2 separate regions of the Homo sapiens genome follow, and region 1 is linked to region 2. Evidence: fine-mapped expression QTL. Tissue or cell type: whole blood. Region 2 holds a variant in brackets; the other region holds the start of a gene. All regions are shown on one strand. Distances are from middle to middle.

Region 1 (6,339 bases), 33 kb after region 2:
GGAGTTGCAGTGAGCTGAGATTGCACCACTGCACTCCAGCCTGGGCGACACAGCGAGACTCCATCACCAAAAAAAAAAAAAAATCACAACCAGAACAAAGTTTTCCGTCGCTTGTGTTCCAAAATAACTTTTCTTAGGCTGCTTTCTATTATTTTGATTGAGGTGTATGCCTATCTCAATCCATTGGTAATCAGAATTAGAGATAATTATTCATTTTTCCATCTTTTAAGATGTTTAGCCAAAGTCCCTGCCTGACACAGCTAGAACAATAAATACTGGCTGAGTGTAAAGCATTAAAGGTATGAATTAAAACACCACATGAGACACATGACTTCCTCCATCCTTCTATTTACTCCTAACCAGACCACTAAATAAGGTGTGATTGTTGGGCATCTCTCCCACAGTTCAAGGTAACATGAGAGTAATCTGGCATGTCATTCCTGCCTCTCAGCAGATGAAAAGAAAAAACTGATACTTGTGATAAATATTGGGTTGGGGCTAAAATGACTGGAACCTGTGCAGGAAAACCCTTAGAGGACTTAAGGAGGGCAGAAATCTTAGACCTGTCTGTGAATCACATTCCCACACTCAGGCACCACTGGTGGGGAACACCTTGTATTCTGTCTTCCTGCTACATGTAGTATTTGAAGATGGGAGATGAGAGCAGCTGCAAGCACGTGTCACAAGGAGTCCATGCTGGACCCCAAGATTTTCCCTCACAGCTGTCCCCTTCCCAAAAACCACAAGAATGAACCCCCAGAGACCTTCTCTCCCTCCTTCTCTCCACTTCAATGAAGTGTGTACCTATCTTTTCACACACAAATGAGATCCCCTTCTTCCCCCTCCATCAGTCCATTCTCACCTTCTCCTTCAAACATTTTAGTCACATCCTCCCACAGGGGCGCCCCCTCCACGGCCTTCTTTGGATGTTGCAGCTTCACCCAGGTGCTGGCCTCGGTAGGCAGGGTGATCAGGAGCTGCTGTGGCATGATGCCTGCCTTACTGGACTTGTCCACTTCTGGTGAGGAAATTGCCAGAAGCTCTTGATGAGACGCTTCACAGTTGTGGGGTGTTGCTCAGATTCCAATCACCTGCCCTCAGGACTCTGGTGTGTCCCTGCAGCACCAGGACCTGGGGGTTCCTAGAGACTGATGTGACTTTAACAATTCTGGAAAACAAACTCCCCTTTAAATCAAGCACTTTCTTTGGGAGGCAGCCAGTTAGTTAGGTTTGAGTTCATGTCTCCATACTCTTTAGAGGAGCAAAAGGGAAGGGAAGAGGGATCCAGAAGCACTTGTCTCCAGAACTCCAGAATCTGCAGAAATATATTTAAAACTGCAAAATACCCAAAAGAAAAATATCCATGCAGGAATAAATATAATACATGTTCCTGGACGTGGCTCTATCTCCAGTTCTATACATACATACACAAACATGCAAAGATGTACAAACATGCACAGACCATGCCTCATCTTCCCTCCTTGTAAGCTGCATGCATCTTCTGCCTGGACACAGACGGGGTTTAAGAGGGCAGGCTTTGAAATCAGACAGCCTGGCTTAGAAACCTGACACTTGCACTTAAAAGCTCTATGACACTTCAACTCTCAGCTTCAGTTTCTTAATCTATAAAATGGAGATAATAATTGTATTCTATAGAGTTGTAATGTTGGTTGAGACAATGCTAGGCATACAGTAAACCCTTAATGAACATTGTTATAAACCTGTTATCATATTGCTGAATCATAGTATTAATTTTTAAAGTTATTTTTAGAAACCATTAAATCTGAATTTAAAGTTCAAAATATCTCAACTGACAGAATAATGACATAGCTGCATTTTGGCATGAACAAGCAGTGACAGCCACGTCACCACCCACGCAGATGCCCAGCAGCTGGCAAGTTCCTTGGAACCACACTGGGAAGATGCATCTTGGTTTCAGAAATGTTAAAATTGGGGAAGAGGGTATGTCTTCAAATGGTGTAAATTTAGTATAATGAGGACTACTGCAGAATAGTAATAGGCAAATTTGGAAACAACTCAAATCCATCATCTCAACCAAACCCTAGAATCTGAGCAGGTGCTTTGACCGTGACCAGGTCCAAAGTATACGGCACTCCAAGAACAGTCGGAGCTACGTGGGAAGGGAGCTGGCCCAACTTTTTGAAGTTTGTTGGAGAAGGATGGGTATGTGACTTATAGGCGTGTGTGTGTGTGTGTGTGTGTGTGTGACTATATGCAGAGACAGGAGCTGCGTGTGTTCTAGGAATTGGAGCTTGTGAGAAATATCCCACCCCTGAATACATAAAAAGTCTTGTTACCAAAGTGCACGAATTTTCGAATCTTACTCGGGAAACAGTTAATGGCTGAGAAGCTTCATATCGAAGATGCCCCACCCTCACAGTGCTCCCAGACATGCCACCCTCGGACTCAAAGACTGCACACAGACTCCTACTCACCACATCGGCCTTGGACCCAGGTAGGACCAGAGACGGGGGCGTGGGAGTGCTCACTCTTGAGGTTTTCAGCGGTAAAGAGTGTCTCTTTAGAGACGGACTGAGTGGTAACAGATATTGTTCCCTCCCGGCCTTTTATAGACAGACCACATCTCCACTCAACGCAATCATTCTCCAAGAAGCGTCCAGCGTTGAGGTCGGCTTCCTTCGGAAGCCCGGAGGACCCTCGGCCTCCGGAGTGGACGAGGGTCTGCTCCACATTCCCATCAAGGGCCCGCCCAGGCGGGTGGGCTTTCCCAGCAGCGCCCCCAGGAGCGAGGCTTTGAGGGCCGGAATGGGAGGGATGCCCTGAGCCGGCGTCTTGCAGACCCCGGGGAGGATACACCTCCCTGGCTGCCGCTTTAACACGGGGCTGGCGGCTGCAGCCAAGCCCACCCAGCCTGGCCTCTTAGGCCGCAGCCGGGTGTCTCGCCTGGCCTCTGCCTCCGGCCGCGCCCTCCCGGCCGCTTGCACCGCCGGCCGCTCTCGCTGCAGCCCTGGCGGTCCCGGGGCCCACCCCACGCGGTCCCGCTGCAGCTGCCACAACCCGCGCGTCTTCCGGCGGGTTGTGAGCCCCGGCCGCCGGCTCCGCCCACAGGGGGCTGCCACGGAGCCCGCCCTCTCCCGGGAAGCAGCGCGCGCCCTCGAACCCGGAAGCTGGAAGCCGCCCGAGCGCGCCCCCGAGGGCCGTCCGGAACCGTGGGTAGCGGCCACCCACCCACGCCGCCCCCCGTTTCCTCACAGCGGTCCTTGGGAGACCTCCTTCAGCCTTTCCGGTGAAGCGCCTTCCCTGTCATTCATTCATTCACTCATTCATTCATTCATTCATTCAGTTATCTATTCTGAGTGTGTAAGATCTACCCCCACATTCTTATTGGCCCTGCGTATACAGCAGTTAACAAAACGCAGTTCCTGCTTTCTTGGAACTTAATTACATTGAAATTAATTGACAATAACAAATAGAAAAATAAATAGATAATACCCCAGGCGATTGTGAGGACCATGAAGAAAAGGAAAGCAGGGTGGGGAGATGATGGGCTAGGATATTTGTATCAACCCACTGTAGAAAACAACAATAAAATTTAAAAATAAAATTCTGGAATACGTGTGTGTGTGTGTGTGTGTGTATGTGTATATATATATACATATATATATAATATATAAATTTGTTTTTGAGACGGAGTTTCGCTCTTGTTGCCCAAGCTGGAGTGCAGTGGCGCGATGTTGGCTCACCGCAACCTCTGCCTCCCGGGTTCAAGTGATTCTCCTGCCTCAGCCTCCAGAGTAGCTGGGATTACAGGCACGCATCACCATGCCTGTAATTTTGTATTTTTAGTAGAGATGGGGTTTCTCCATGCCTGAGCGACAAGAGCAAAACTCCATCTCAAAAAAAAAAAAAAAAGAAGAAGAAGAAGAAGACCCTCCTTACAATAACTGGGACCCCAAAGGGCAACAGCCTCAGGGTGAGGATGAATTGAAAATGGAACAGCTTAAAAGGAATTTACAGACTGCATCAAATTGCCTGTCTCAGACATTATCTTGGTTTAAGACTGTCTCTGACTATGGTGTCACCAGATGCTTGGCAAAAGCAAATAGGTGGAGGAAAGCCTTATAATTGTAGGGCCGACATTTTTCCTACACATAAGTTTTCATAGACAATGTCAAATACAGAATTAAAGATAACCAGGTACACAAAGAAACTAGATTCTTAGTGAGAACCAGCAGAAACACAAACATTGGAAATAGACCTGCAGAAACAACTGCTTTTAGAATTATTTGATGCAAACCGCAAAATAATATTTTCTTGGGCTGGACACAGTGGTTTATGTCTATAATCCCAGCACTTTGGGAGGCCAAGGCAGGTGGATTGCTTGAGCTCGGGAGTTCAAGACCAGCCTGGGCAACATGGCAAAACCCTGTCTCTACAAAATATCAAAAATTAGCCAGGTATGGTGGCACAGCCCTGAAGTCCCAGCTCTTCAAGAGGCTGAGATGGGAGGATCGCTTGAGCCCAGCAGGTTGATGCTGCAGTAAGTCACGATCATACCACTGCCCTTCAGCCTGGGTGACAGAGCAAGACCCTGGCTTAAAACATATGTATATTTTCTTGCTTACCTATTAGAGTTTTTAGGAAAAAAAGTAAAATAAAATCATATTTTCTTTGCCTGAAGAAATAAAAAAGATAACTTGGACAATTTTGGCAGGTACCTAAAAACTATACAAAGTGATAGAGCAGATTTAAAAAAAGAAGTAAATAGACTTCTCTTCTATGATTGAGAAATACAGTAACTAAATTAAGAACTCAGTTAATGGCAGATTAGACACTGCTGAATGTAGAATAAATTGAAAGGAAGGTAGGTCACAAGAAATTATCTAGAATAAAGCATTGAGAAACAAAAAATGTACCCTACAGAAGACAGAGTAAGAGAGATAGAGAATACAGTAAGAGGATCGAACTAAGTTTAACGAGAGATAAAGCTAGGGCAGAGACAGTATTTGAAGAAATAAGGGCTGAATATTTTTAGTACCTATGAAAGGAACCAGGTCACAGATATAAGATGCCATATAACTCTCTAGTGGGATAAATAAAAGAAACCCTTTTATTTATCTAGTCAAAGAAATCTACACCTAGTAGAAGAAATCCACGCATTATAGTAAAACTACAAATTGTTATAGAACCAAACTGGGGTCCACTTGCCTGGTGCAGTAAAAACAGAACAAAGTAAAAAACATGACTAAATCTAAATGAACATAAATAATAGACTAAAAATCTCAATAATCCACAATAATCCATGAGGTTTAAAAAATAGATATAGCATATTGAGTATATGTATGTGTGTGTGTGTGTGTGTGTGTGTGTGTGTGTGTATTTTTTTTTTTTTTTGAGACAGATTCTCTCTCTGTTGCCCAGGATGGAGTGCAGTGGTGCCATCTCAGCTCACTGCAACCTCCGCCTCCTGTGTTCAAGCGATTCTCATGCCTCAGCCTCCTGAGTAGCTGAAATTACAGGTGAGTGACACCATGCCCAGCTAATTTTTGTGTTTTTAGTAGAGAAGGGTTTTGTCATGTTGGCCAGGCTGGTCTCAGACTCCTGGTCTCAAGTGATCTGCCTGCCTTGGGCTCCCAAAGTGCTGGGATTACAGGTGTGAGCCACTAGGCCCAGCCATTTTTTGGCTGGAATTTTTATACGTATTTTTAGCTGGAAGGGCATATTACTGAATATGAAGACCAAATATAAAATTATAGTAACTAAGACAATGAGGTAGCTATTGGTGTAAGAATAGATCAACTGAGCAATGAAGGGAATAGAGTCCAGATGCAGACATACACATAGACCACCACCTTGCATATGACAGGGGTGGGGAAAGGAAGGTGTTTTTAATACATTGGTGCTGGATCAATTGGATATTCATATTAACTCCTGGTTTACAACATATACAAAAATATTCCAAATGGATTGCAGATCTAAATATAAAATAATAAAACTTTTTAGAAGAAAATCAGAGAATGTTTTTACAACCTTAATATAGGCACAGATTTATTACATGCTATAGAAAGTACTAAACATAAAGAAAAAATGATACATTAACATAGATTAAAATTAAGAACTAGATTTTTCAGATACTGCTAGTGAGACTATACATTGGTACATACAACTGTTTTGGAAAAGTATTTGGCAGTATCTACTGAAGCTGAATAATATGACCCAGCAATCCTGCCCCTGGGTATATACTCAACAGAAATGCATAAATATGTTCCCTAAAAGACATATACTAGAATGTTCATAGCAGCCTGTCAGCAGTAGAATGGGTAAATAAATATCGGTATATTCACATAATCAAGTATA
Region 2 (6,339 bases):
CAACTTTTTACTATAAAGATTTTCAAGGCCGGGTACAGTGGCTAAAGCCTGTAATCTCGGCACTTTGGGAGGCCGAGGCAGGTGGATCACCTGGGGTCGGGAGTTTGAGACCAGCCTGGCCAGCATGGTGAAACTAAAAATACACCTCATGGTGAAACTAAAAATACAAAAAATTAGCCGGGTGTGGTGGCGGGCACCTGTAATCCTAGCTACTCGGGAGGCTGAGGCAGGAAAATCGCTTGAACCTAGGAAGTGGAGGTTGCAGTGAGCTGAGATAACACCACTGCACTCCAGCCTGGGTGACAGAGTGAAGACTCCATCTCAAAAGAAAAAGAAAATTTTCAAACATACAGAGAAGTAGAAAGAATAAAACAACAAACACCCATGTCCACACCATGTAGATGAACAACTGTTGACATTTTGCTGTATTTACTTCTTGTGTGTGTACTTTTTTGTTTTGGCTGAACTATTTTAAAGTAAATTACAGATAGCATAAAACTTTAAAATCTAAATGTTTCAGCATAATTTCCAAATGGCATTCTTCTTCATAACCACAATACTGTCTTCCAAATGACATTCTCCTCATAACTACATTATCACATCTGACAAAATTAGTAATTCCTTAACATTCCAGTTCATATATAAATTTCCCCAACTGTCCTCAAAATGTCCTAGATAGCTTTTCTTTAATCCAGGAAACAAAGACCACACATTATGTTTGATTGTTTTGTCTTTCAAGTATTTTTTAATCTTAAGAAACTGGGCGGCCAAGCGCAGTGGTTCACGCCTGTAATCCCAGCACTTTGGGAGGCCAAGGCGGGCGGATCATGAGGTCAGGAGATCGAGACCATCCTGACTAACACGGTGAAACCTGTCTCTACTAAAAGTACAAAAAATTAGCCGGGCTTGGTGGTGGGTGCCTGTAGTCCGAGCTACTTGGGAGGCTGAGGCAGGAGAATGGCGTGAACCCAGGAGGCGGAGCGTGCAGTGAGCTGAGATCCCACCACTGTGCTCCAGCCTGGGCAACAGAGCGAGACTCCGTCTCAAAAAAAAAAAAGAAAAAAGAAAAAAGAAACTAGGCAAATTATCTTATGAAGATACTCTTTTTAAGCCTTCCTTCTAACCCCACATATCTAACCTGCATAGAGAGTAAGCAAAACAAGATACAACCAGTCCATTAGTGTTTGACTTTGAGTGCCAGGAAAATAAATAATTTGACATAGAATTTTAGCTGATAGAGATAGCTATGAACCAAATGTCCCCTTCTTGCTATTCTAATAAGCAGTGAAATAAGGTGAATGCACCAACTCCTATGTCAAAGCGTAAGAAGTGATGCCCTGAAAACGTCATTAATATCAGTTGTGGTTGTGTTTAACTGATTTTTAAATAGTCTAAATGTCACTAATGAAAGAAAACATAGATAGCTAGAAGAAAAGTTATCTGCAATGAATAAAAATAATACAATAGTAAGACTTTTGCTTATAGAGTATCCTACAACATTATTGCTTTACAGGATATTTCAATAGTAACAAAATACAGAAGCTGTGCATTTACACAAGTGTTATAAACTGTCAATGTGCTTTAAATAATTTCAAGAAACTTTATTTCAACTATGAAGTCTCTGAAAATTGGAAAGAATATTTACCCTTCACCAAGAAACTAAAGTTAAAGGGCATTTATTTTTTCTTTTCTTTTATTTTATTTTTTGAGACAGAGTCTCACTCTTTCACCCAGGCTGGAGTGCAGTGGCGGGATCTCAGCTCACTGCAAGCTCTGCCTCCCGGGTTCACGCCATTCTCCTGCCTCAGCCTCCCGAGTAGCTGGGACTACAGGCACCCGCCACCGCGCCCAGCTAATTTTTGTATTTTTTAGTAGAGACGGGGTTTCATCGTGTTAGCCAGGATGGTCTCGATCTCCTGACCTCGTGATGCACCCGCCTCGGCCTCCCAAAGTGCTGTGATTACAGGCGTGAGCCACCGCACCCAGCCCTAAAGGGCATTTATAACACATATGCTATGAGGTATTTGTGAGGGTGAGGGGGAACTCCAAGTCCAAATCAATAACCTTAAAATATTTTATTTCAAATATCTAGACCTGGCTGTCCAATATGGTAGCCATTAGTAGCCACTAGCCATATGTGGCTACTTAAATTTAATTAAAATAAAATAAAATTCACATCTCAGTTGCACTAGCCATATATTAAGTGCTCAGTAGCTACATCTGGCTGGTGGATACAGATAAGGCACAGATACAGAACATTCCCTGATCACAGAAAGCTCTACTGAACAGCATAGAGTTAGACTATTTCCTGTGTACACATTAACTCCCCAAAGAGAGAGGAAGCTCCTGAAATGTATGGAGTTCCTACTTGTTTTACATACAACATTGAGAACAGGTAGTTCTAAACAGGGAAGTGAAATGTCTTTTGGAGAAGATACAAAGCAGGGCATTCTCTGTGAAAGTATTCATCTATAAGAATAAAACAGTACACTAGGGATGGATGACTGATGCTCAGATGTGTCTGGGACTTTCCTACGCAGAAAAGAATCCAGAAGAGAGCATAATGCAGTGCATTGTGTCCCAAATTGTAGTTTGTATGTCTGACACGAGACGATTTTACATAGCACATGGACCAACATTTTTAGATACACCTTAGAATAACTATACTGTTATTGGAGCAGCCATCAAATGGCTAATTTCACAGATATTGTTTCTTAGGACAAGTTTGATTTTTATAAAAAAAAAA[AG/G]TAAGTAAAAACATAGAATAATACAGGTAGTACACAGGTATGGCAAAATTGTTAGGTAGTAAGTGAATGGGATGCTGGGAAACAGCATAATGCCAAGAGTCTGGGAGTCCTACAGATATGGATTCTAAACCTAATCCTGAGTAGTTCGGTAGCATTTAGTAGTATGCTACTTGCCTTTTGAGTAAGCTTGGACAAGGTTCTAGTTTTCCTGAAGTTACTGACACATTTTTAAAATACCTACTAACCCTACTGAGATATCCGACCATTGAGTGATAACATATAGTACGCATATTAGCACTCGATGAAGATAGATCTCCTTCTTTTTCCCCAAGGAAGAGATGAGAGAGTGTATCGATTCCCCCTGACAAAGGAGATGAAACTTTAGAAGAGAAACTCCTATTCACCTGTGACTTCGTTGATCTTCCTCCTCATAGGGAAGGCCAGAATGCTGAAATGACAAGGCTAGGGAAGAGAAAGAAGTTCTGAAAGACCAGGTCTGCATTAAAGAACCTAAATTAGCAACTTAGGTCCTTGCTATGGTAGAACCGGAACTTCTGGTCCTTTCTTACCTGACCATTCCCTCACGTTGGGTGTTTTCTCCTCTCACATTGACACTGCACAGACTGTTACCCACCCCAGATCCTAGGTTACATAACGCTCGCCTCTCTCCTGGGGCAAACTCTCTCCATGATTTCTTCGTTCCCCCGTACTCTAGATGCAATGACTTGATCCAATCCCTGCTCCCTGAAAGTAAAAGGGTCAGACATAACCAAGATCCCCAAGGAGCTCCGAGATCAGTTCCCTCTTCCAGCTCCATTCTCAACCCAGCAGCTCAAGCAAGAGACCTTATGACAGCGGCTCTTTCTCTCAGATGGGTTACTGCCTTCTGCAGAATTGCCGATGGCAACATCCTGACTTGTTCAGTGCGGCCCGGACTTGTGGGCTCCGCGGGCGTTTGCCTTCAGGGAAGATCTTTCCTCTGGCCCTAAAGCACTGTCTCCCAGGGAGTGCCATGCATGCCCTAAAGTGTACTGAGCACTTCCTACAGTTCTGGCAGAGCCAGGAATAAGAACAGGGAGCCGTCCACCTCGGGAAGGAGTCCCGGCCAACAGCACTGTGTTCCGAGGGCGAAGGTCCAGAACGGGAACCCGGCCTGTGAGGGGAGACGAGACGAGCCGCTTCCCGGGAGCCGCGCCCACCAAGGGAGGGAGACGCGGCGATCGCAGGGACAGAACCCTAAGCTCCGAAACGCAGCCTCCCAGCCCATTCTCCGGCCTTCCCCTAACCTCTGATACTCCTCCGAACCTCGGACTCCACCTGGTTTCGCCGCGGCCTCGGAGCTGCTCCCGGACGCTCCCGGCGAGGAGACTGAGGAAGCCGGGCAGAGCGCGCTGCCGGAGCGGACTACACAGTCGGCCCGCCACTCGCAAAAAAGCCGCCCAGAGCCCAGTCCCAGAGTGCCCCGCGGCTGCCCACGGACCGCCTTCCCAGAGGCCCTCGCGGCGCCGCCTACCTCGCGAGGCTGCGGCTGGGGCAGAAATCCGTCTCTGTGAGCGGAGGAGGGTGTGCTTATGCGAGAGCAGGTTTTGGGAGCTCACTAAAGCAGGTCAGTCCCTCTGTTTGCGCCGTTGTCTGTGGGTCGTTTAATTCCGGGCGCAGCTGATCTGTAACTTCCCTCACTGGCGAGGTCTCCCAGTTACCACCGGGACAATCCGAGCAAGGTCTGGGCCCCTCGCTGCCCCCGGTGAAGTGCCGCGTCTCCGCTTGGCCATCCGTGGATTCAGCATCCCCACCTTAGCACCTCCCGCCGGCTTTTCCATTGAGAGCAAAACCACGAACTCACTTTTGAGAGATGCTGGCGCTCCCCTCATCAATATTTCTTTTTTTTTTTCTGTTTGCTTACTTTTAACTAACCTTTTATTGATAAATATAACACAATTTTATTCTGAAATATAAACCAAAGATAAGTATAATTATGAACAGCCAAGTCATTAGAGCGAAAAAAGAATAGTGTCAGGTTCTTCACAGATACACTTCCTGAGAAAACCACTAGCCCGACTTTTATAACACTTTGCTTTTCTTATTTATATTTATTTATTTATTTATTTTACCAAAAGCAGATACTTGACTCTTTGCTTTTCTTTACGGTTTATCACGCATACTTGAAAACTGGATTTATGACAAAGGTGGCATCATACAGCCATGGAGAAAAGATGGTCTATTCAGTGAAGGTTCTATGACAATATGAAGGCCGGGCACGGTGGCTCACGCCTGTAATCCCAGCACTTTGGGAGGCTGAGGTGGGCGGATCACGAGGTTAAGAGATCGAGACCATCCTGGCCAACATGGTGAAACCCTGTCTCTACTAAAAAGTACAAAAATTAGCTGGGTGTGGTGGCACACACCTGTAGTCCCAGCTATTCAGGAGGCTGAAGCAGGAGAATCGCTTGAACCGGGAGGCGGAGGTTGCAGTGAGCGGAGATCACACCACTGCACTTCAGCCTGGGCAACAGAGGGAGACTCCGTCTCAAAAAAAAAAACAAAACAGAAAACAGGACCTCTATCTCTCATTTCATCACAAAAATCAATTGTAGCTGGATTAAGACCTAAATGTGAAATCCTAAACTATAAAGTCTTCAGAATATAATATAGGAAAATATCTTTGGACTTCAGAATAGGTAAATATTTTAAAACAAAAATAGAAAAACATTAAATTGGCCAGGCATGGTGGCTCATGCCTGTAATACCAACACTTTGGGAGGCCCAGGTAGGCGGATCACTTGAGGTCAGGAGTTGAGACCAGCCTGGCCAACATAGTGAAACCCCGTTTCTAGTAAAAATACAAAAAATTAGCCAAGTGTGGTGGCAGGTGCCTGTAATCTCAGCTACTTGGGAGGCTGAGGCAGGAGAATCACTTGAACCTGGGAGGCGGAGTTTGCAGTGAGCCGACAACAGGCCACTGCACTCCAGCCTGGGTGATAAAGTGAGACTCTGTCTCAAAAAAAAAAAGGAAAAAAAGAAAGAGAAAAAAGGAAAGAAAAAGAAAGAAAGAGAAAGAAAGAAAAGAAAAGAAAGAAAGAGAAACATTAAATTAAGACAACTACAGGCTGAGTGCAGTGGCTCACACACCTGTAATCCTAGAACTCTGGGAGGCCGAAGTGGGTGGATCCCTTGAGCTCAGTTCAGAAACCAGCTGGGGTAACATGGTGAAAACACGTCTCTACAAAAAATACAAAAATTAGCTGGGGGTGGTGATACGTGCCTGTAGTCCCAGCTACTCTGGTGCGTCAGTTGGGAAAATTTTGAAGTGACTTGTGTTTTAGATAATATTATCAATCAATTATAGGTCTCCTGAGTGTCATAATGATTTTGTGGTTATGTAGGAAAATGTTCTTTTTCTTAGAAATATGTAAGTTGAGGCCAGGTACGGTGGCTCTCGCCTGTAATCCTAGCACTTTGGGAGGCCGAGGCGGGCGGATCACCTGAAGTCAGGAGTTCAAGACCAGCCTGGCCAACATGGTGAAACCCTGTCTCTACTAAAATACAAAAATTAGCCGGGCATGATGGCAGGTGCCTGTAATCCTAGCTACTC

What was found. PIP is the estimated chance that this variant, and not a neighbour inherited with it, causes the effect.
Region 1: ZFP69 starts here. The variant in region 2 is fine-mapped to the expression of ZFP69 in whole blood (INTERVAL, PIP 0.97).

The regions. Positions count from the first base shown.
Region 1 is chr1:40,474,012-40,480,350 of GRCh38, reverse strand. ZFP69 (ZFP69 zinc finger protein) reads right to left here and starts at 3,061. Exons shown (of 6, transcript NM_001320179.2): 1 at 2,457-3,061; 2 at 863-1,315. The coding sequence starts at 989. RefSeq lists a silencer at 2,853-3,322.
Region 2 is chr1:40,506,603-40,512,941 of GRCh38, reverse strand. EXO5 (exonuclease 5) reads right to left here and starts at 4,175. Exons shown (of 4, transcript NM_001346953.2): 1 at 4,034-4,175; 2 at 3,317-3,491; 3 at 3,152-3,209. EXO5-DT (EXO5 divergent transcript) reads left to right here and starts at 4,247. Exons shown (of 2, transcript NR_187365.1): 1 at 4,247-4,353. RefSeq lists enhancers at 3,769-3,858, 3,889-4,138. The variant AG/G (reference allele first, on the strand shown) is at 2,747.